Linked DNA regions of Homo sapiens. The protein of the gene in region 5 purifies or fractionates together with the protein of the main gene of each other region. This does not show direct contact. Each region holds a gene or a part of one and is shown on either strand. Other genes may lie near its edges. The genes, in order: DIMT1, PARN, DDX21, NOP14, UTP14A and RPF2.

Region 1 (3,500 bases), on a different chromosome or scaffold from region 5:
CCAGGTAGGATTCTAACTGGCATTATTGTATGCTTAAGATTGATTTAACAACAGCTATTCCCAGTAAGGAAATTTTAAAAATCAGATCCAGTTACATGTATTATGATTTTTCTACCTTATGGACTATTTTGGAGGGATAAGCTATTAAGACTAAGACTATGAATGAGAGTTGGGGAAGGAGCAGGAAGGGAGGAACCTGCACACCACATTGGAACCTGCACACCACATTAACACAAAGGCAATCTTCTGGCTCGGACTGTTCTTTACTACTGTTCTTAAAGAAAATGTTCATTCTGCTGCAGCTAACTAGCCTCCATCTTCTACACCAAATACTATTCCATGCCATGGAAGTGCTATGCAATAACTCTCCCAGGTAGCACCTTATACCGCTTAAAAGCCTTTAAAATCTCCAATCTGAAGGTGTCACAGTAAAGAAATGTAAACACTTAGGAAAACAAAAATGTAATTACCTGATGAAGTCATCTATGTCCATGGAACGGGCCCGTTTGTCACTAAAACCTGTGCTGGTTAGGATTTGCTGTATTTTATCTGCTATGCTGAAATCTTCTGGTATTATCTATCAATATAAGATTCAGAATAAATGAACGACATATCTTTAATGAGGTCACCTTGACTCTTTTTTTTAGTTCAGTAAGTCATAAAATAGTCACCTTTAATATATCTGTTAATGAGACTTTGGAAAGCCTGATTTTTACATTAAGACTTGGATCTCTAATTAAAAGTGGCTGATCTTTATTAACAAAAACTTGGAATACCTTGAATTAGTAATCCTGTCTATATTAGCCATTTTCTTCTTTAAAATTCTGAAATAGTTATTAGTTTCAGACTTCACAAATAATTACAACTGTAAATTAAATTTTAAAGCAATTGTTACTCCTTTCAAAATAATGCATTTTCTTCCTACAGATTTGACCTTAACCACCTCATTTTTCTCAAAGAGGTGACCTGCCCAAGCCTTGGGAATATTAAGGATTTTACACTTAATTCACATATTTTATCCAAAAGGATTTTACACTTAATTCACATATTTTATCCAAATATTTTTCTTAATCTAGCTTAATATTTTTCTATTATACTTAGGCAGATTATCTAATGACTTTTTGCCCATAAAAGAGAAAATGGAGATAGTATTGTGATACATTAAACCATATAGGTTCTGAGTCATAAAAAATAAAAAGAAAATTGGCCTTTCTCTCTCTGTTCTAATTAAACTGGAAGCTAAAAAGATAGCAAACATCACATCGCACACACTGTTACACAAATGATACGCATGAGGCTCACAACCAGAAATCTGCTATTGAGCCATATGAACTTTATTTCAATTTCTATACAAAGAAAGTAATAACTATATTTGTAACTGCTATGTGAGCAAGAAACAAGACGTGGTCACAATTCAGAGGACAGTAAACTACACAATTATTTTAAGTTGTGCAAGCTACACATATCTACAGCTTTGAGGAACCTGTAACTGCTGAATCTGATTCTTGTTATGGCTAAAAACAACTGTCAGTAGTTAGAGGACAGGGTGGAGTAATCAAAGTTGCTCATATCTGTTTCACAGGATACACAGCAGCACTGACCTGTCAGAATTCAAGTCAAAATTGTGCTAGTTATACATTATATATTGTCTTTTAAGGATCTTATGGAATGTACAAAATAATCTCATGCTAGATCAACAAGAATAAAAATGGACATTTTAAAAGAAAACAAATCAATGAAACTGCAGGAACATTTTCTAACTTACAATATTATGGACTGAACAGTGAATTCTGTAGTTTTTTTCCAAGAGTTGTTGCACTGCACTTGATCTATAGCATAAAGAAGTGATGCCACTGTTATTATTCCAAAGTCAGAGTAATTTCTTACTTTTTTAAACTTTTTTTTAACTAATACATAAGCCATTTAAGCAATAATTTCATTTTAGATGAAATTAAATCTATATTCTGTATGGTGAAATTAAGGAATTTTAAAAGTTGTTGAATATTTAAACTTATGAAGCAAACACTAAATATATTTAAAGTGCAAAATCCTAATACCTCTTAAATTCTTAGAGAAGTTCTAGACTCTCCACAAAAAATCCCCTAAAAAAAAATCTCCAAGCCCTGTAAAACTGTGTCTCACCTCTCTTTTACCCTTGAACCCCAAATTGATGAGCTGCATTTTCCCAGGTTAATTACATGACACATATCCTTCACAAGTGTGGAAGGGGTCCATCATCACCTCATTTTTCCAACAAAAAACTAGAGCAGATATATGGTCAGAGTTTGGGAGTGTTTTCCTGTTTTGCCAAAAAATGTGATCTGACTCTCAACTCCAGCAAACTTTCTTCATTAAGTTTGCTTTAGAGCCTCCCAAGCTCTAAAGATAGTTTAAAAGGTGAAGTTTGTCTGGACCCATAATCTTTATGCTTTAGGGTAGCTGCTCAGGAAAAGGACCAAATTCTAGCATAGTATCTGGAGCACTGGCCCTTTATACATTAGAAATTAGTGTAATACTTACTTAAATGCAGCAGAGAGTGTCTTGTTTTTCCTAACAAAGGTTATCCTTACTAGACCATCCCATTCCTGAAATAGAAGATAGACATTTTCTTCAAATTACAAACTTCTTGTTCTTGTCTATGCCCACTAGGTATTATTTTGTCTTTTAATATATACAATTGAAGGAAACTTTCTGAAGTGAAGAAAATGTTCTGTAATCTTGATCTGGCTGGCACACACATGCAAAAGTAAGACATACATTTGATTTTTGCACTTTGGCGCATTTCACTGAATATGTCTTTTCCTCAGAATTTTTTTTTGACAAAGCATGACAATTTTTTTTTTTAATTTGAAAAAATAAAGCCAGGCACAGTGCTGCATGCCTGTAGTACCAGCTACTCAGGAGGCTGAGGTGGGAGGATCGCTTGAGACCAAAAGTTCAAGTCCAGCCTAGGCAACATAGTGAAACCCCATCTTAAAAAAAGAAAGGGAAGGAAAAACAAAATGGTCCCACATCTGAACAAAGAACATGGCGTTTATTTAAATCTAAGTATCATTTTCAAAAATAAGATTCAAAACAGACATGACTTCAGATACTTCCTGTGTAACACACCTAAACCTCCTTGAAGGAGTTATTGACAAACCACTCCATTTACCACCAGTTGACCACACACACAATCACGTTTTTCTCTAATGTGGCTGTAGTAAGGTTTTATATCAAGTGGTCTTCTTTCTTGTTTTTAAATCTCAAAAAACAATTACAATGAAAAGATGTTACCCATAATACTACTTTAAAACAACTATTTTCATTTTACCTTGTTTTCCTAGTTTTATTCCATTTTTTCTTTTTTTTTTTTGAGACTGGGTCTCACTTCAAAACTACCTTGCATCAAATTATTCCATCTACTTCAGCACAGGGATGTGTCCTAATTAACATTTTCCTATGTTTGAATATTTAGGTTGATTCAATATTTTTCTGCTGTTATAGGCACACATCTTCCC
Region 2 (3,500 bases), on a different chromosome or scaffold from region 5:
AAATTAAAAAGTTAGCCAGGCACAGTGATGCACACCAGTAGTCCCAGCTACTTGGGAGGCTGAGCCCAGGAGTTCAGCGTTGCAGTAAGCTATGATTGAACCACTGTACTTCCAGCCTGGGTGACAGAGTGAGACCCTGACTCTTAAAAAAGAGGCGGCACAGCTTCTGCTCTCTCTGCTCTCCACCACGTAAGGACAGGAGAAGGCAGCCATCTGCAAACCAGGAAGTGGGCTCTCACCAGATACTAGGTCTGCTGGCAACTGGGTCTTGGACTTTCCAGCCTCCTGAACATGAGAAATAAATGTCTGTTGTTTAAGCCCCACACTCGACAGTAATTTATTACAGCAGCCTAAGCCAGGAGACAGGTAAGATCCACCCTAGATCACTGCGTGTTTGACTGAAAGACATGTAATGCGTACCTAGGTAATTGGCCATGGAGATGAAGCACAGCCCTGTGATGTAGGCATCGTAGCCTGCCTCGTGGAGTTGTTCAGAGGCTGTGTCATAACTTGGAAAACCTTCGGCACTTTCTAAGAAAAAAAAGGAAAAAGTTTTCCTCAAAACAAAGACTAGTAAGCACATTGCCCTACCAATCAAAATTGCATTAGCATATGCTAGAGAAATACCCTAAATAGGCAGAAAAAAGCTATCTATTCCTTAATTCTCTCTATATAAGACCTTAAAATACAAGATAACAGAGTCACTGAAAAGGAGGGCTTTGGTCTAGGATACAGAAATGCCTCAGTTAGATTACAAAGGACTCAGCCGTGGGCTTTCTCGTCCCACACTGGTGGGTGCTATTTATGATCATCCATAACTCACTCTAGGACAATGATTCCTCTTCTGCTTGCTTTCTAAGGCCATGAAAAGGATATTCTTCCCTTATACAAGATGGTCACATCAGGCCACAATAGATGATCCAGAGTAAAGATTAAGAGCATGGGCTCTGGAGTCACACTGAGTTCGAATCTCTGCTCCACCACTTATTTGCGGTATGACCTTGGGCAAGTCACTTCATCCCTAAGGTTCCAGTTTTGTAAAACAGAGATGATAATCAAACCTTCTTCAAAAGGTTATTGTTAGGATCAGATAAGATAATATAAGTTAAACTCTTACCTAGTGCTTGGTACATAGTAAGTGCTCAAAAACTGTTATCTATCAATACCTGAGGCAACCCTCCCCCAAAAAAAGAGAAGACTGCAATTCACTATCAACAGCTCCAACTCACTACTGTCCTCTACTATGTTCCCAAGCTTAGAGATCGAAAGGTGACAGCACAACCAACTCCAAAAATAAATCGAACTTGCTATAATGCTGGCCTTGGATCATGGAACCACTTTACAGCAAAGACCGCTTTATATACAATATGGTTCTTTTGTGACATTGATAAATACAGATGTGACCAGATAAACTATAAGAGGAATGACCTGCTTTAGACTGAATTCTCTACCAGATACCACTATTTTATATGGAAATAATAACATAAAACTATAACTCATAAATAATTATATCCTAGAACCATTCTGGAAATGAATGTCAGGAAGGTTACTATAACACAGAATCAAAAGCATAAATGGAAATTAACAATGAAAAGGCTGTAACTGTTTTTATGTCAATACAATGCTCTTTAAGCAAGAATTCTTTAACTCCATATTAAATATTAGACTTGATGCCTTTAAAAAAAAGCCTTTTAACATGGTAGCCACCTAAGTAATATCTTCCACTCCATCATCAACTGAGACACATTCTTTCCAAAATCAATTATTTCCATTATATTGTTATAGAAAAGGTCCACGTTTTCTCCCCCAATGGCCCCACCACCACTTTTCTTAATTCCTTTCTTGGACTATTACCCAGAAAGGGGCAAATAACTGTAATCTTGGCTGCTTTAATACTTTGCATTATCAATTTCTAAACCATTAGTCCTATTATCCATGTCTTTAGAAGTTTTCAGGCTACAACTAATGGCTCGCTAATCACCGTATCAGCAGCACAATCAGGTTAACAGGGACCAAGGAAGTAGCACCTGGTAGGCTCTCCACATACCTTGGTGGTGGCCCGAGGTGGCAAAACACCTCCATCTCATCTCCCTACTTCTGGTTTTCCTCAGTGCTGCTGTTTCTACTCTCTAAACCAGCTGAAAAGGAGGCAGGGTGGGGACTTGCCTTAATCTCACCTGTAAATCCAGTTCTCGGGCTTTTCTGAGATGGAAAATATATTTTTTACTCTACCCCTGGTGATTAATCACTAGCTCTTTGTCTCTGCTTCAATAATGTATGAAAGAATAAAAGGGCACATCAAGTTTTAGGAGAATTCCATATTATTAGAAAATAGAAGCCTTGAAGCTTTAATTGCTAAAATTCTCAATGAATGGCTACCCAACTCCATTAACATAAAATATATGTAGAATTAAAAGACCATCTTTATTCAAAAAACAATAATTCAACACACGGTACGTGCAAGTGAATTCAGCCAAAATCTATAAATGAACAATACGGTCTCCAGAGCCATTCTGCTTTTCTTCTACAATATACATCAATAATTATTACAAAGAGTTTGGAGGGTTTCCGGTTTAATATTCTTACCAACTTTAGGAGGGTTGAAAGGTGTCTCTTTTAACCGCTTTTCCAATTCCGCAAGGGATGTGTTGTTAATGATATCCTGCAAACCACGAAGCAAAGAATTATGAGATTTCATCATCTCAGAACAATATATTAAAGAGATTCACTGACCCCCCCAAAAAAAAGACAGCATCTAGTACTGTCTCCTTGTGTTCTTTAAAGAAACACAGAAGTCTTCGTTTTTTTCAATGTGAAAGAGAAGCAGCTAGTTTAATTTTTATAATATACAAAGTATAACCAAATGAATAAAGATCTTTACAGATGCATTAAATACCTCCAAACCTTTTGCCAGAAGGCTATATTGTTCTGGCATTCATTTCACTCAGTAATATGCAGTCGCTTTATAAAGTAGCAAATGAATAATACCTTAAAAGGTTGTGTGCTGGCCATCAATTTAGTATCCAAGAGTCTAAAAAGAATTTTTAACAAGGTAAACAAAATGTATATCAATGTTTAAAATGTCTTTTACTCAAATATGTAAGCTACTTAAAATACTTCATACATAAAAAACATAATTAAAACATAAAATGTTTAATACAGAAAATACTTAAACACAGACAAAGTAATTAAACACATTGGCCATTTTGAACCCAGCACCAGCATCCCTGCTACGTTGGAGTAGGTACTCAGTCCCATCATCAGCGACTTCATTGAGCAACTGCAGGAGAGTCCACACTTGGAGTACAAGTTCTAGATTCACCTGGATCCTCAGAGAGCCTGGGCTCCATCAATCTCAAGGGTGAGTCAAATACTCTCACATGGTTTTACGTGGTTCAAATACTGCTGCCGGTCTACCATTCCCAAACTGCTACCATCTACTCCTACTCCTCAGGTTTGTAAACTATAAATTCTTCTGCAGGGCCAAAATCTACAATCAG
Region 3 (3,500 bases), on a different chromosome or scaffold from region 5:
CACCATTAGTCAATACACTTCTGAATACACACTGTATTAAATACAATTTTTTTTGAGACAGGGTTTCATTCTGTCACCCAGGCTGGCGTGCAGTGGTGTGACCACAGTTCACTGAAGCCTTGAACTCCTGGGCTCAAGCGATCTTCCTTCCTCAGCCTCTGGAGTAGTTAGGACTATAGATGTGTGTTACCACGTGCCCAGCTAATTTTTAAACTTTTTGTCGGGACAGGTTCTCACTATGTTACCCAGGAAGATCTCAAACTCCTGGCCTCAATCAATTACAGGTGTGAGCCACCACAGAGGGCCTGAAAAAGCTTTAACCACTTGTTTAAGAAGCATGAAGAACCATCACTACTATAGTACTAAATTGAATACACAGGCCTACTTCATTATATGACTGCATATATCAGCCTACAATAAGAATACATCCTGGTTCATCTTAACAAAAATAGTGGAGTGCTTCTGTTAAAATAATACGTTCTAACATCATACGATATTTCCAAGAACATTACCTTTGAGAAGTTTAATAGTTTCTTCAGATATGGGAAAATTAGAGAAAGCGCCTTCTTTTTGTTCCACAGGTATTTCCTATCAAGTAAAGGGCCATAGAAAGAAATCAATAATCACCTACACAAATTAATAGAGAACCTTCTGAGAAAGAGACAAAACAAGCTATCCTAAAGCAATTCTTCTAAACACATCACTTTAAAAATCAACCAAAAAGATACAAAAACCTTGATAGGTAACTCGAGATCTGAAAAGGAAACATTGTCATAAATCTATAAAACTTTAACAAAAGAAAAATCTGAGGCAAATATATACTGGGTAACTAGATCTCAACTAAGATCTCAACTAAGATTATGTGTGACTAGATCTCAACTAAGATCTACTCCATAACCATAATCAACAATATACTGATGGAAATGTCATTAGCCCTCTTCCAAAGCAGCATCTCTTGTATACACACATCCATAGAAAATGAACAAACATTTTATGAGGTAGCAGTCACTGTGGCATTATTTGATAGTAAGATATCTGAATGCTCAATACAAGTAGTAAGTAGATTTCAAGACATTTATATGAAGGATTATGTAACCATTAAGCGTACTTAACGAGGAAAATGCTTAGCTAGAAACAAAAAAGATACAAGATTGCACAGTACAATCCTAATCTGATTAAAAATAATAGATGCATATACTAAAAGTACTACAAGGAAACACCAAAAATTAACAAGATGACTTCTGTACTTGAAAAGTACAGGTATTAATATTTACTAAATGAATGGTGAAATTCCAGGAAGCATTTCTTTCTTTTTGCAAAATGTCTGCATTTTCTATTTTCTCTGGATCACATATTTTTTATAATCAGGAAAAAAGTTACAAATGTTGACCATGATCTATAGCAAAAAGAAAATCTATTAGAATTAGTATTTTTCAGCTGGGTGTGGTGGCTTGTGCCTGTAATCCCAGCTACTCGGGAGGCTTAGGCGGGATTATCGCTTGAAGCCACAAGTTCTAGACCAGCCTGGGCCACACAGCGAGATCCCATGTCTAAAACAAATTTTTTTAATACAATTCGTATTTCTTTCATAACTGAGTTTCTGAAAGATAACAGAATTAGGTTCTGGACAGACATTTTATCATCCTGTTCAACTCCAGGATGATTACTTAATGGCCTAACCAAAAGGACTTATGCAATCAACCTTTTCAGTAATTCCAATAATTTATTTGGTTAAACCCCTCAGAGGGAAACTAGGGCCCATTTACAAAACTGTATCTCTTCTGTTGACTGACTTGCAAATAAGCAGACCAAGACTCTCCCTAAGCTTAAGCAGTATCTGCTTATTTGTAAAGGAGGCATTGTGACACTATGCTAATTTTTTTTTTTTTTTTTTTAAAGACAGAGTCCGCTGGGAACAGTAGCTCATGCCTGTAATCCCAACACTTTGGGAGGCCCAGGCGGGCAGATCACCTGGGGTTGGGAGTTCGAGACCAGCCTGGCCAACATGGTGAAAGCCCGCCTCTACTAAAAATACAAAAAATTAGCCAGGCGTGATAGCACACACCCGTAATCCCACCTACTGAGGAGGCTAAGGTAGGAGAATCACTTGAACCCAGGAGGCAGAGGTTGCAGTGAGCTGAGATCGTGCCACTGTACTCCAGCCTAGGTGACAGAGCGAGACTCTGTCTCAAAAAAATAAAAAAATAAAAAAGACAGAGTACTCTTAGCTGAGCCACCATGCCCTGTCGTATGCTAATTTTTAAGATGAAGTCCCAGTCAGCCTAAGGTATCCCCCAACCCACAAGGTGCTGACACATCACATTTTCTCCTACTATTAAAGAGTACATATAGCAGTTACCTACTTATTTATCTGAAACAACAATGAAAGATATCTTCTACCCAATGAAGTGCAAATGTACCTGCTCTATCTCACTGTTACTTTCTTCACTGGCAGCTTCACTGGGGTTACAGTCCGGTTCAGGATGAGGAAATCCATTCTTCAGTTTGGGGCTTTTCTCTCTAGTTTCTCCATTCATTTCCTTTTCTTTCTTCATCTTCTTGGGCTTAGGAGCATCTATTTCTTCCTCAGAAGGCTCCTCATTTTTTGTCACTTTTTTGGTTTTAGAAGAAACCACTTTCTTTTCAATGGGCTCCTTTTTCTTTCTCAAACTTTTGGTTTTAGGAGAAATGTCATTTTGAGATGGCTCCTCTTTCTTTTTTGCCTTTTTGGATTTAGGAGAATTCATGTCAACTTCAGAAGGCTCTGCTTTCTTTTTAACTTGTTTAGCTTTGGGGAAAACAGTTTCTTCCTCTTCTGCTATCTCTTCAGTCTTATCAGATTTTGGCTTCTCTTTTTTCTCTTTCTAAAAAAAATTCATAAGGAAAATACAAACACTGAATAAGGCATTTATACATTTGCAACATTCATCAATTCTGGATTATTTCAAGATCATTTTCAACTTTAAAAAATACAATTTTGGGGCATTTCGACATTTGTACTTTCATGCTGTGATAAGGTAAAAATCAAAATAGTAAGCTTTTTCTAAAATCGCTTCTTAGCTATATATATAGACGGGTATATATCAATAGTTTCACTATCTTGGAAAATGAAGAGTGCCCCTTAGTAACTATTCAACTCATGTGGGTCAAACAGTTGTAAAACAGATTTTCTTTTTTGAGACAGAGTCTCGCTCTGTCGCCCAGGCTGTAGTGAAGTGGCACAATCTCAGCTCACTGAAACCTCCACTCCTGAGTTCAAGTTATTCTCATGCCTCAGCCTCCCGAGTACCTGGGACTACAGGCGCCCACCACCACACCCAGCGAATTTTTGTATTTTTAGTAGAGGTGGGGTTTTCCCATGTTGCCCAGGCTGGTCTCAAACTCCTGAGCTCAGGCAACCCACCCACTCCGGCCTCCCAAACTGCTAGGATTACATGAGCCACCGTGCTTGGCCTATAAACCAGATTTTCATAAGGGATTTGGATAAGCTCATGGGATAC
Region 4 (3,500 bases), on a different chromosome or scaffold from region 5:
CCTGAGGAAACCCGCGCACTTGCCCACCTGCGAACGTGTAGGGCAGCTCGTCTCTGGTAGCTTTTCCAGCTCTTTCCTTGCCGCTTATCAACCCTTTCCCAGGAGTCTGCCTCTGCTCTTTTGCTGGCTTCTCGTTTTCTTCCTCACTCTCCACGTTGGATTCCAGGTCCAAGTGGCTATCTGGGCTGTCGCTCTCCTCTGTGTCCTCCCCGCCTGAACTGTCACCTTCTTCCTCGTTGCTCTCAGGGTCACTGGCTTCCTTGCTTTGCTCTTCCTGGACATCTTCCTCGACATTCATCTTTCCATCCTACCAAGAGCGTGGAAACCACAGGGCATGAGGACAGGCGGAGACAACGCTGGACCATCTCACAGCCACATCAAGAGGCTGCCCACATCAGGGCTTTCTACGTGGTTGCAAGGAACACAAACCTGTGTGCTCCATTTGCCCACTGGCACTAGGCCTCCTGCCCACCACCCGCTTCTAGGCTATTCGAGCCGCAGGAGCTACAGGCTGCTAGAGAACCCTGCGGCAGGATGCTGGGCGCGGTTCAGCTTTTGCCAGGGAGCAGCATGGGACTGGGATTTGGAAGGTGTACAGTGGCTGCGGGCTTTAGCAGGAGGAGTGTCTACAGCACCTTCTGCTCCTCCAGGTAACCTAGTGTTTTTATCAGTATCCATTTTCCTGTGTGGATCTCTTCTGCTTGAAACCTGTCCTGCCTATTTTTCTTCCCTGGACCCTGACTGATACACTCTTAAAACGAGAAAAGGGTACCGATTTATAAAGTTCGTGAATTAAAAACTACACCAGTCATGGAAACTCAATGACATCACTCAAAGAAAATTCACAACTCTAGCCTTGAGTTAGCTCCCTCAATAGTATGATGAGGTCATGCAGATAGAATCATACAGTTATTAACAAAAGTAGTTGATGTTAACCGAGTAATCAGTTTTATCTGTGTTCCTTTGAGACAGAGAGAGAGAGTGAGAAAGAGAGCGTGAGCAAGTGAGTGCACATACTATTGTTAAAGTCTTCTCTCTAAAGTTTTAATATCTGATATACCATAAACACCCAGATAAAGAACTTTAGAGAAACTGGTTAAAAAGATTTAAAATTCCCAACTGTAATAAATCCCTAAAATGAATACCAAAAAAATGTTTTTAAATTAAAAAAAGAGAGAGAAAGAGAAAATGAAGGCAAACATCTTACTTTGTAGGAAAGCAAACGCCTGTCATCTTTATCTAGCACGAAGCCATCATTCAGATCATCTGCTGACATATGTTTTGGTTTCTTAACATTTTCATCCTCATCCTTTCCAAGCATTCTTCGAAGTCTCTCAGCCTGAGCAGGAAGGAATGAGATGTCTTAGAGCACACTCTTCCAACATATGGTGAGGGGGCCGTGCAGTCCTGCCCTGGGCAGCGGGCTGGGCCTACGGTCCTCCCAGCTCTGAGGCTGGTGCATCCAGCCTGCTTTCTGCCTGCAGTTTTCAATCAGGCATGCAAACACTAGCTAAGCAGCACATTCCTCATTTAACAAAATCAACTGTTCAAACTTTGTGGCCAATACTCTCCAGTCACCAGGCAAGCCTATTATTCTGAGGCCTTCACAGCCCAATTCTGCTGGCCAGCCCCGACTGGGACTCATCACCCCCTGCACCGAGAGAATAGGAGCCAGGACGCCAAGAGCAAGCAGCTCCACGGCCTCCACTATTTGACCACACACTGGACACGGGAAGAAGCTAGTGATGTGGTTATGTCAAAACAGCCAGCTGAGCCAGCTGTGATGGCAGCCCACACCTGTAACCCCAGCACTGTGGGAGGCCGTGGTGGGAGGATCAGCTGAGACCAGGAGTTTGAGAACAGCCTAGGCAACATAGGGAGATGCTCATCTATACAAACAATTTTTGAAAATTAGCTGGGGCCAGGCGCGGTGGCTCACACCTGTAATCCCAGCACTTTGGGAGGCCGAGGTGACTGGATCACCTGAGGTCAGGAGTTCAAGACCGCCTGGCCAACATGGCGAAATCCTATCTCTACTAAAAATACAAAAATTAGCCGGGCGTGGTGGCAGGCGCCTGTAATCCTAGCTACTCAGGAGGCTGAGGCAGGAGAATCACTTGAACCCAGGAGGTGGAGTTTGCAGTGAGCCAAGATTGTGCCACTGTACTCTAGCTGGGTGACAGAGCGAAACTCTGTCTCAAAGAAAAAAAAAAAAAAAGGTATTCATGAATAAATATAAACTTTAAATAGACTAAAATATTCCACTGATCAAACAGAGTATTCTCTTCAGCCCATCCTGCAAAATGGAGCAGAAGGGGCTGTGGACGGACAGCAGCACAGCCCTGCTCCTGAGGTGCTGCCACCCTACCTCCAGCTTCCTGAGGTGCTCCTGCTCTTCCTTTGCCAATTCTGCCTCCGTCTTCATCCTGTTAGAGGGCTGCGCCTTCATTTCAAAGCCAAGCTCGCGAACCATCATGTCATATGCATCGGGCTAAGGTAGAAAGAAGAAATTCTTCATTTTAAAAATATATTTATTTCTTATTTTACAAAAAGAAAAGATCTAGCTTCCTGGCACATTCTAGTAATGGCTAGATAATGTTATTGAAGTAGCTAAGCCACATCTACGTCTTTTCTTCTAGAGAGAAAACTGTTCTGATAAGCCCTGAGGATTGCGAAATCAGTGGACATTCGGTCACAAAGAATTTGTTTACCCCTAGAAAAATTCTCAGAATACATCTGCTTTAACGAAAACAGGCCAGGTGCAGTGGCTCACGCCTGTAATCCCAGCACTTTGGGAGGCCAAGGTGGGCAGATCACGTGAGGTCAGGAGTTTGAGATCAGCCTGGCCCAACATGGTGAAACCCTGTCTTTACTAAAAATACAAAAATTAGTCAAGCATGGTGGCACGCGCCTGTAATCCCAGCTACCCGGGAGGCTGAGGCAAGAGAATCACTTGAACCCAGGAGGTGGAGGTTGCAGTGAGGTGGAGGTTGCACTACACTCCAGCCTGGGTGACAGAGCGAGACTCCGTCTCAAACAACAACAAAAACGCTACTTATCCAGGCATTACGCCCTAAACGTGGGAAACTAAGTAAAGTAACGGTAACATCAAGGCTGACTGACAAAGATGCACAGATGACCACATGACACTAATCTGCTGGGATCTAGACTTCTCTGAGAACGCAGTTTCTTAAACAAATGCAGCATTTTCCAATAGTTTCGACTAAAGAGAATGCAGTAGGAAACAACTGTTTACAGAGGCAAAAATAAGTAAATGTATATTAAATGTATGTATTATGTATCAACAGACAAACATGTCACAGGGAAGTTCAGACACCTATTCTAACGTGTCCACCCTGAAGTACTTCTTCCATCCAGAAACACCACTTTTTTCAGTTTAATTCACCTGCAATAGAGACTCAAGTAACTGAATCTACTTCCACCCCAAGATTACACACAGCAGGTAATTCAGTATCAATGTTCAACAGAAACTTGCCCTA
Region 5 (3,500 bases):
TTGGCAAAACTGTATGAGGTTGGTTTGGGGGGAACAAAAGGCTAGTCACTCCTGTTTGGGACCTCATCTGCATGACTCTAGTTGCTGCATCAAAGGTTCTCTCCAAAGAATTCATGATGAACCACATGACTTTCTTCTGTGGAACCCAAGGCCAGTTCACAGGGGCCTCCTTACTTTTTACTTTTGATTTTCTTCTCTCTTCGAGCCTTGGCCTCATAGTAGGACTGCAGAGCCCGAGCCCTCTGAAGCTCTGCTCGTCGCATCTTTGCCTACAACAAATGAGACTTACAGTGACACCTGGGCCAGAGGACAAATGCTAGGAGAAGCGTGGCATGCCTGGGTGTGCTGAAGGGCCTATGACACACTTACCTCTTCTAGGCTCATGGCTCGGAGAGAGGCCTTTTCCACAGGGGTCAGTAAAGGGTCTGTCACTGGCTGCTTGTTCTTATGGAGGAGGTTGAAAATTTCCTGCTCCAGGGGAGTTCTTGCCTTAAAGAAGCAACAAAACATTCTGAGTCTTAAGCCATGCTCTTACAGCTTTCTCTCTTTACATTCCTATGATTCTCTAACTTATGACACTATAATTGGAATCATAAGTGGATAGGATTGGCTGTTACAGCAAGAGAAGGGGGTTCCAGTCTTGTTGTCAGAAGTATAAATAAAGCCTTATTTGATTCTTATATAAGACAACTTCAGCAGGGAGACGCTGAGGCTACTCTCTAATACTGCTGAGGGGGATCACTGTGTTCAGGTTACCAATATATGTTTTTTTTTTTCTTTTTTCTTTGAGATGGAGTCTTGCTCTGTCGCCCAGGCTGAAGTGCAGTGGCGTGATCTCGGCTCACTGCAAGCTCCGCCTCCTGAGTTCACGCCATTCTCCTGCCCCAGCCTCCCGAGTAGCTGGGACTACAGATGCCTGCCACCACGCCCAGCTAATTTTTTGTATTTTTAGTAGAGACAGGGTTTCACCGTGTTAGCCGGGATGGTCTCGATCTCCTGACCTCGTGATCCGCCCGCCTCGGCCTCCCAAAGTGCTGGGATTACAGGCGTGAGCCACCGCGCCGGCCCAGATTACCAATATATGTTAAACTGATTTCCATTCTCTTAAGAATCTAGGCACATTGCCCTTGAGTCCCTGTATTGTTATGTATCATTTGAAGCACATAACTATTACTTTATAGTTAGGAATCTCAAATTCATATCATAAGCCTTCTTTTAGAATATTTCTAGAGGGAAGGGGCGGTTAGTTTTTTTTTTTTTTTTTTTTGTTTTCTGAGACAGAGTCTTGCTCTGTCACCCAGGCTGGAGTCCACTGGCACTCCAATCTCAGCTCACTGCAACCTCCACCTCTAGTGCTCAAGTGATCCTTCTGCCTCAGCCTCCTGCGCAGCTGGGACCACAAGTGTAAGCCACCATGCCTGGCTAACTTTTTTTATTTTTTGTAGAGACAGGGTCCTGCCATGTTGCCCAGGTTGGTCTTAAACTCCTGGCCTCAAGCCATCCTCCTGCCTTGGCCTCCCAAAGTGCTGGGATTACAGGCGTGAGCCCAGCATGCCCTGTGAGATTAGATCTTAAGATAAGCATTATTTGCCACTGATGGTATACCTAGGACATATATCTGCAAATGTCTCAGAGGGGAAGCCCAACTTTTTTTGACCATAGCCAACTGCTATAAACCATGCATATAAGTGTTCTTGGTATCATTAATTACTGATGAAAGAAAATGAGAAAAAACATGGCATTTTTTTGGCAGAGTCTTCAAATGTAGTTTGTGGTGGGGTGTGTGTCTTAATTTCTTGAGCACAAAAGGATATTGCCTGAAAAAAAATATAGGATGGGCATGGTGGCTCAGGCCTGTAATCCCAGCACTTCGGGAGGCTGAGGCAGGAGGATTGCTTGAGCCCACAAGTTTGAGACCAGCCTGGGCAACATGGTGAAACCCCATCTCTATTTATTATGTTAAAAACAAACAAACAAAAAGACCTTCATGTAATCAGCCTGTTTCCTGATGGTTCAAGTTGAACTCTCCTCATTTTCTAACTTTGGCTCCAATTCCTCAGTTTCCAGTTAATTTTACATGCTAGGCAGAGTATGTATGAAACGAATGAACTGTAAACCAGTTATTCCACATGCTATCATGAGGATGGCTAAATATTCAGGCCGATCATGCCACGGTCCACATTCTGGCAAGGCACAAAGACAGCCCTAGGCAACAGAGCTAGTTTCAAACCTCACACACATATTATGTGTGGTTTTCTTCAATAGCCATATACATCGTGGTCAGTATTAAACTTACAAATATTTGGATAAATGCATAAACGCACATCATCACATGTTACACGATGCTATTGATTTAACCATAAAACTATTCTACTGAATAGTAAAGGTATATGTTCTTCCACTTTTAGTATTTGCAGTAGTGATCAATCTCAGGCTACAAAGTGATTTATACTACAATGTTGTAATGTCCCTTCAATTCAATTCAATTTACAAACATTTATTGATTGTAGCTATATTCCAGGCACTTGTATGGGGTGCTAGGAATACACAATTGATTAAGATAGTTCCTGTCCTCATAGAGCTCACAGCCTTTGAGAGCAGAGACATATACAACACAAACAGCATAACATAATGGGTTAAATACCCTTTATGTTACCCTTAAATAACATAACTGCTACGTTATTCTATAGGGGTAATCACAGAGGAAATTACCATTAAATATTATTGGGAGGTAGGTTAGGCTTAGGGAAGGAAGTGACCTTTTGAATTAGGCTTTGAGGCCTAAGTACAATTCTGTCAGGAGGAAAAAAAATCCAAACAGATGAGCATAAGCAAAAAACACAGACACAGGGAAAGGAGTGGTATGTAATAGAACAACGTGTTGTCCAGCATAGCTAAAATGCTACGTAATTTTATTTTATTCTGTAAGTGAACAGCCTTTGAAGGATTTTAAGCAGGAGAGCAATGATCAACTGTGTTTCAGCAAGAAAATCCTGCTGATTGTGTAGAGGATATATGTAAAGTTCCAAAGGAAAGGTTCAATGAGGGCCTCGATTAGGGCAGTGAAAATGAAAATGAAGAGAAAATAGGAGCATAAGGGCTATTACAGAGACAGAATTTGCAGGTCTAGCCCCCTGTATAAGCTGGCGGAGAGGGAGACAGTGAAGGGGTCAAGAAGGAATCAAATGACTGAGGTTTCCAACCTAAGTGACTGGGGTAGGGAGTTATGCTGTTAACTGAGTTGCAGAATGAAGGGGGTGGTATAGGTTTTGGAAGTCTGGGGAAAGGAAATGCGAAGCTTACTTTGGACTGGACTAAGTTTAAGGTGCATATGGGGGACCCAGGTGATCCCTGCTAGTCACATGGAATATGAGACTGGAGCTTCAAAGAAGGGGTTGAGAGTGATAGTCGAAAGTTATGAAATTTTCACTCCTGTAATCCCAGCATTCTGGGAGGCCGAGGTGGGCGGATCACGAGGTCAGGAGATCGAGACCATCCTG
Region 6 (3,500 bases), on a different chromosome or scaffold from region 5:
CCCGAGCTCAGGAATTCGAGGCTGTGGTGAACCGTGATTGCACCACTGCACTCCAGCTCTGGTGATAGAGTGAGACCCTGTCTCAGAAAAAAAAAAAAAAAAAGTAGTAGACAAAAACAGAAAAAATAAATTCTATCACGAAAGGCTGACAGATTGAAATAATGTTGCGTGGAGATCAGAAAACTTAGAAACAGTAATAATGATGACAATTAGAATACTAGCCAGAGGTTAAACACAGCTCTTTAAAAAATGCCTATTATTCAATGTTCTTCATTTTTTTCCTAGTTCTACCTATCCACAAATAATCATTCATTTTATTTTATTTATTTATTTTTGAGACAGGGTCTCACTCTGTTGCCCAGGCTGGAGTGCAATGGCGTGATTAAAGCTTACTGCAGCCTGAAACTCCAGGGCTCAGGTGATCCTCCCATCTCAGCCTCCCAAGTACAGACACATGCACCACGCCCAGCTAATTTTTGTATTTTGAGTGGAGATGGGGTTTCACCATGTTGTCCAGGCTGTATTTTATTATTTTTTTAAATTTAATTTATAGAGATGGGGTCTCACTTTGTTGTCCAGGCTGTCATCCTAGGCTTAAGTGATCCTCCCACCTCAGCCTCCCAAAGTGCTGGGATTACAGGTGTGAGCCACCACACCTGGCCTATAATCATTTATTACTTGTATGGCCAGTACTGCTCTACCATAGAGAATAACAAAGATGTCATCAGGTACTACCTTGCATTAGAGAAATGGGTAAATGAGGGAAACAATGAAAAATAAGGTATAATAATCATTCATCAACTATCAGAGTTGGTGAACAAAGAAAATGCAACAGTAAAATCTACCTTTTTAAGTACTAAAACTTTTGATGATTCTTGGCCAACTATTTCCCTGTTTCCGTGTAATAAACATTGCCACCTCTTCTTGATGACTCAGAGTCATCATGATGAATTTTAATTATTGTAGTAATCTGTAATATTGTGCTGCTTTTAAAGCTTACTTAAATATGCAGGGTCATTGTGCTGATGGATACTAGAAGGAGAGGGGCAGTTTCCCGTTAGCACAATGAAATTCAGACAAACATTTCAAAAAAGGGATGGGCCTATATAAGGCATTCAGACATCTGAATTGACTATGCTTATCAGGCATAGAGTTTGGTCAAGTTTAAAATATATTCAAAGCCAGGCATGGTGGCTCACTCCTGTAATCTCAGCACTTTGGGAGGCCGAGGCGGACAGATCATGTCAGGTCAGGAGTTTGTGACCAGCCTGGCCAACATGGTGAAACCCTGTCTCTACTAAAAGAACACAGAAATTAGCTGGGTGTGGTGGCTCCCAGCTACTTGGGAGGCTAGAGGCAGGAGAATCGCCTGAACCCGGGAGTCAGAGGTTGCAGTAAGCCAAGATGGCACCACTGCACTTCAGCCTGGGCAACAGCGTGAGACTCCACCTCAATAACAACAACAAAAATGTATTCGATTACTTAATTGATTTAATTCAAAGATCTATTGGCTGTACTCAAGGCCTAATTAGTCAAATAACCTACTAGATATCTCCACATACTATGTCTTTTTTTTTTTTTTAGTTGGAGTCTTGCTCTGTTACCCAGGCTGGAGTAAGTGCAATGGCGTGGTCTCAGCTCACTCCAACCTCCATCTCCCAGGTCCAAGCAGATTTTCCGGCCTCAGCCTCCCTAGTAGCTGGGATTACAGGCGCCCACCACCATGGCTGGCTAATTTTTGCATTTTTAGTAGAGACAGGATTTCACCGTGTTAGCCAGGCTGGTCTCGAACTCCTGACCCCGTGATCCGCCCACCTCGGCCTCCCAAAGTGCTGGGATTACAGGTGTGAGCCACTGTGCCTGGCCCATACTATGCCTTTCTTTCATAGATTACATATATATTGAGTACCTACTATGTCCAGACACTGGGCTGTACACTAGGCTACAGAGGTAGAAAAAACAAAGCTTTTATTTTCATTACTTAAATTACATGTCCCAAACCGAACCTTTCACCTTTCCCTCCAAACCTGCTCCGCTTGATACATTTTCTAATTGGCATTATTGCCCATCAGGCACTCAAGCCAAACACCTGGGAAGTCATACTTTTCACTAGTTCCCAACTCTTCTTTCCTCAACATCTATTCTTTCTGGTCATTTCTCATTTTCATTGCCACCACTGGACTCCAGATGCTCTTCACCTAGCTGGCAGCAATGGCTTAGTTTCCTACATTTGCTCTCAACCCTCTCTAATCAAGCCAATTAAAAGGACTGATGGTATCTCTTGCTTAATATCTTTCAATGATTACACGGAGCTTTCAGATTAGAATTCAAATTTCATGTTACTATGTGACCCATGCCTCCTCTTCTAGCCTCATCTAGCCCACTCTCCTTTGGCCATGCCCAATTATTTACAGTTCTCCAAATGCATCAATGCTCCTTCATACTCCCTTTTGCACAAACTTCTTTCTCAGCCTCAGAGGATCTTCTCTTTCTCTCCCACTTCTTGCACCAACTTCTCCTTCAAAATGAAGCTGCAGTGTTATCTCTGGGGGAACCTACCCTGTGTGGGGGTCCCCCTATGTGATTTTTTTTTTTTTTTTTTGAAATGGAGTCTCTCTCTGTCACTCAGGCTGGAGCAGTGGCACAATCTCGACTGACTGTGACCTCCACCTCCCAGGTTCAGGCGATTCTCCTGCCTCAGCCTCCCGAGCAACTGGGACTACAGGCGCCCGCCACCACACCCGGCTAATTTTTGTACTTTTAGTAGAGACGGGGTTTCACCATGTTGGCCAGGCTGGTCTCGAACTTCTGACTTCGTGATCCTCCTGCCTCGGCCTCCCAAAGTGCTGGGATTACAGGCGTGAACCACCGTGCCTGGCCTCCCCTATGTGATTTTAACTGTTTCCCACCCTACCCTGTCCATGCCTCCAGCACAGCACAGTGTAAGAACTTTTTACATGTCTATCTCTCTAAGCTCACTGAAAGAACTGTGTCTCACCTATTAATTCCCAGCAGAGGCACAGTAACCGGTGTTGTTGAATGACTAAATATACAGCAATATGCAGTTACTTCTCTTTACAAATTAGATTTTTTCCTAAAATGTAAGTAAGCCAAATTCTAGTAATTGAAAACAGTTTAAATTTACTAAGGGAGACCTTCACTCTACCAGACCCACCTGTGCTCCTAAAAAACAATAATAAAATTTACTAAGAGAACTAGTTGCTTTAAGAAAAGGTGCCACGCAAGGTAAATAAACCCCCAACTTTAGCTCTTCTCTAAGACTAGTAGTTCTTATGGTAAGGCAAGCTTATCTACGTATTTCTCCGACAGCCCATCCTAGCATGCTGAAAATTCTAAAATGACTTCAATACCTTTTAAAGATTAAGTATATATACTTACCACATCTTTAAGTACTTTTGTCACTGTTGCATTTGCATTTCCCCCTTTAATCAGCATGGCATTTTTAATATTTTCATTGAGTTTCGGTTCTCTCTTCTCAA

Evidence for each region.
Region 1: the proteins of UTP14A (region 5) and DIMT1 purify together in Homo sapiens (affinity purification with mass spectrometry; one large-scale study listed by BioGRID and IntAct). This does not show direct contact.
Region 2: the proteins of UTP14A (region 5) and PARN purify together in Homo sapiens (affinity purification with mass spectrometry; one large-scale study listed by BioGRID and IntAct). This does not show direct contact.
Region 3: the proteins of UTP14A (region 5) and DDX21 purify together in Homo sapiens (co-immunoprecipitation; one large-scale study listed by IntAct). This does not show direct contact.
Region 4: the proteins of UTP14A (region 5) and NOP14 purify together in Homo sapiens (affinity purification with mass spectrometry; one large-scale study listed by BioGRID and IntAct). This does not show direct contact.
Region 6: the proteins of UTP14A (region 5) and RPF2 fractionate together in Homo sapiens (co-fractionation; one large-scale study listed by BioGRID). This does not show direct contact.

Annotation. Positions count from the first base shown.
Region 1 is NC_000005.10:62,390,406-62,393,905, forward strand, and holds part of DIMT1 (dimethyladenosine transferase), read right to left. Parts: intron 2,586-3,500; coding exon 2,521-2,585; intron 1,830-2,520; coding exon 1,766-1,829; intron 1,602-1,765; coding exon of another isoform or gene 1,566-1,601; exon of another isoform or gene 1,314-1,565; intron 621-1,313; exon of another isoform or gene 578-620; coding exon 471-577; exon of another isoform or gene 1-470. UniProt on the Homo sapiens protein: Specifically dimethylates two adjacent adenosines in the loop of a conserved hairpin near the 3'-end of 18S rRNA in the 40S particle.
Region 2 is NC_000016.10:14,581,761-14,585,260, forward strand, and holds part of PARN (poly(A)-specific ribonuclease PARN), read right to left. Parts: intron 3,032-3,500; coding exon 2,989-3,031; intron 2,663-2,988; coding exon 2,587-2,662; intron 532-2,586; coding exon 421-531; intron 1-420. UniProt on the Homo sapiens protein: 3'-exoribonuclease that has a preference for poly(A) tails of mRNAs, thereby efficiently degrading poly(A) tails.
Region 3 is NC_000010.11:68,959,170-68,962,669, reverse strand, and holds part of DDX21 (nucleolar RNA helicase 2), read right to left. Parts: intron 2,865-3,500; coding exon 2,421-2,864; intron 589-2,420; coding exon 513-588; intron 1-512.
Region 4 is NC_000004.12:2,949,907-2,953,406, forward strand, and holds part of NOP14 (nucleolar protein 14), read right to left. Parts: intron 2,492-3,500; coding exon 2,369-2,491; intron 1,340-2,368; coding exon 1,208-1,339; intron 1,173-1,207; exon of another isoform or gene 308-1,172; coding exon 28-307; intron 1-27. UniProt on the Homo sapiens protein: Involved in nucleolar processing of pre-18S ribosomal RNA. Has a role in the nuclear export of 40S pre-ribosomal subunit to the cytoplasm.
Region 5 is NC_000023.11:129,916,164-129,919,663, reverse strand, and holds part of UTP14A (U3 small nucleolar RNA-associated protein 14 homolog A), read right to left. Parts: intron 490-3,500; coding exon 370-489; intron 270-369; coding exon 175-269; intron 1-174. UniProt on the Homo sapiens protein: May be required for ribosome biogenesis.
Region 6 is NC_000006.12:110,985,038-110,988,537, reverse strand, and holds part of RPF2 (ribosome production factor 2 homolog), read right to left. Parts: coding exon 3,400-3,500; intron 1-3,399. UniProt on the Homo sapiens protein: Involved in ribosomal large subunit assembly. May regulate the localization of the 5S RNP/5S ribonucleoprotein particle to the nucleolus.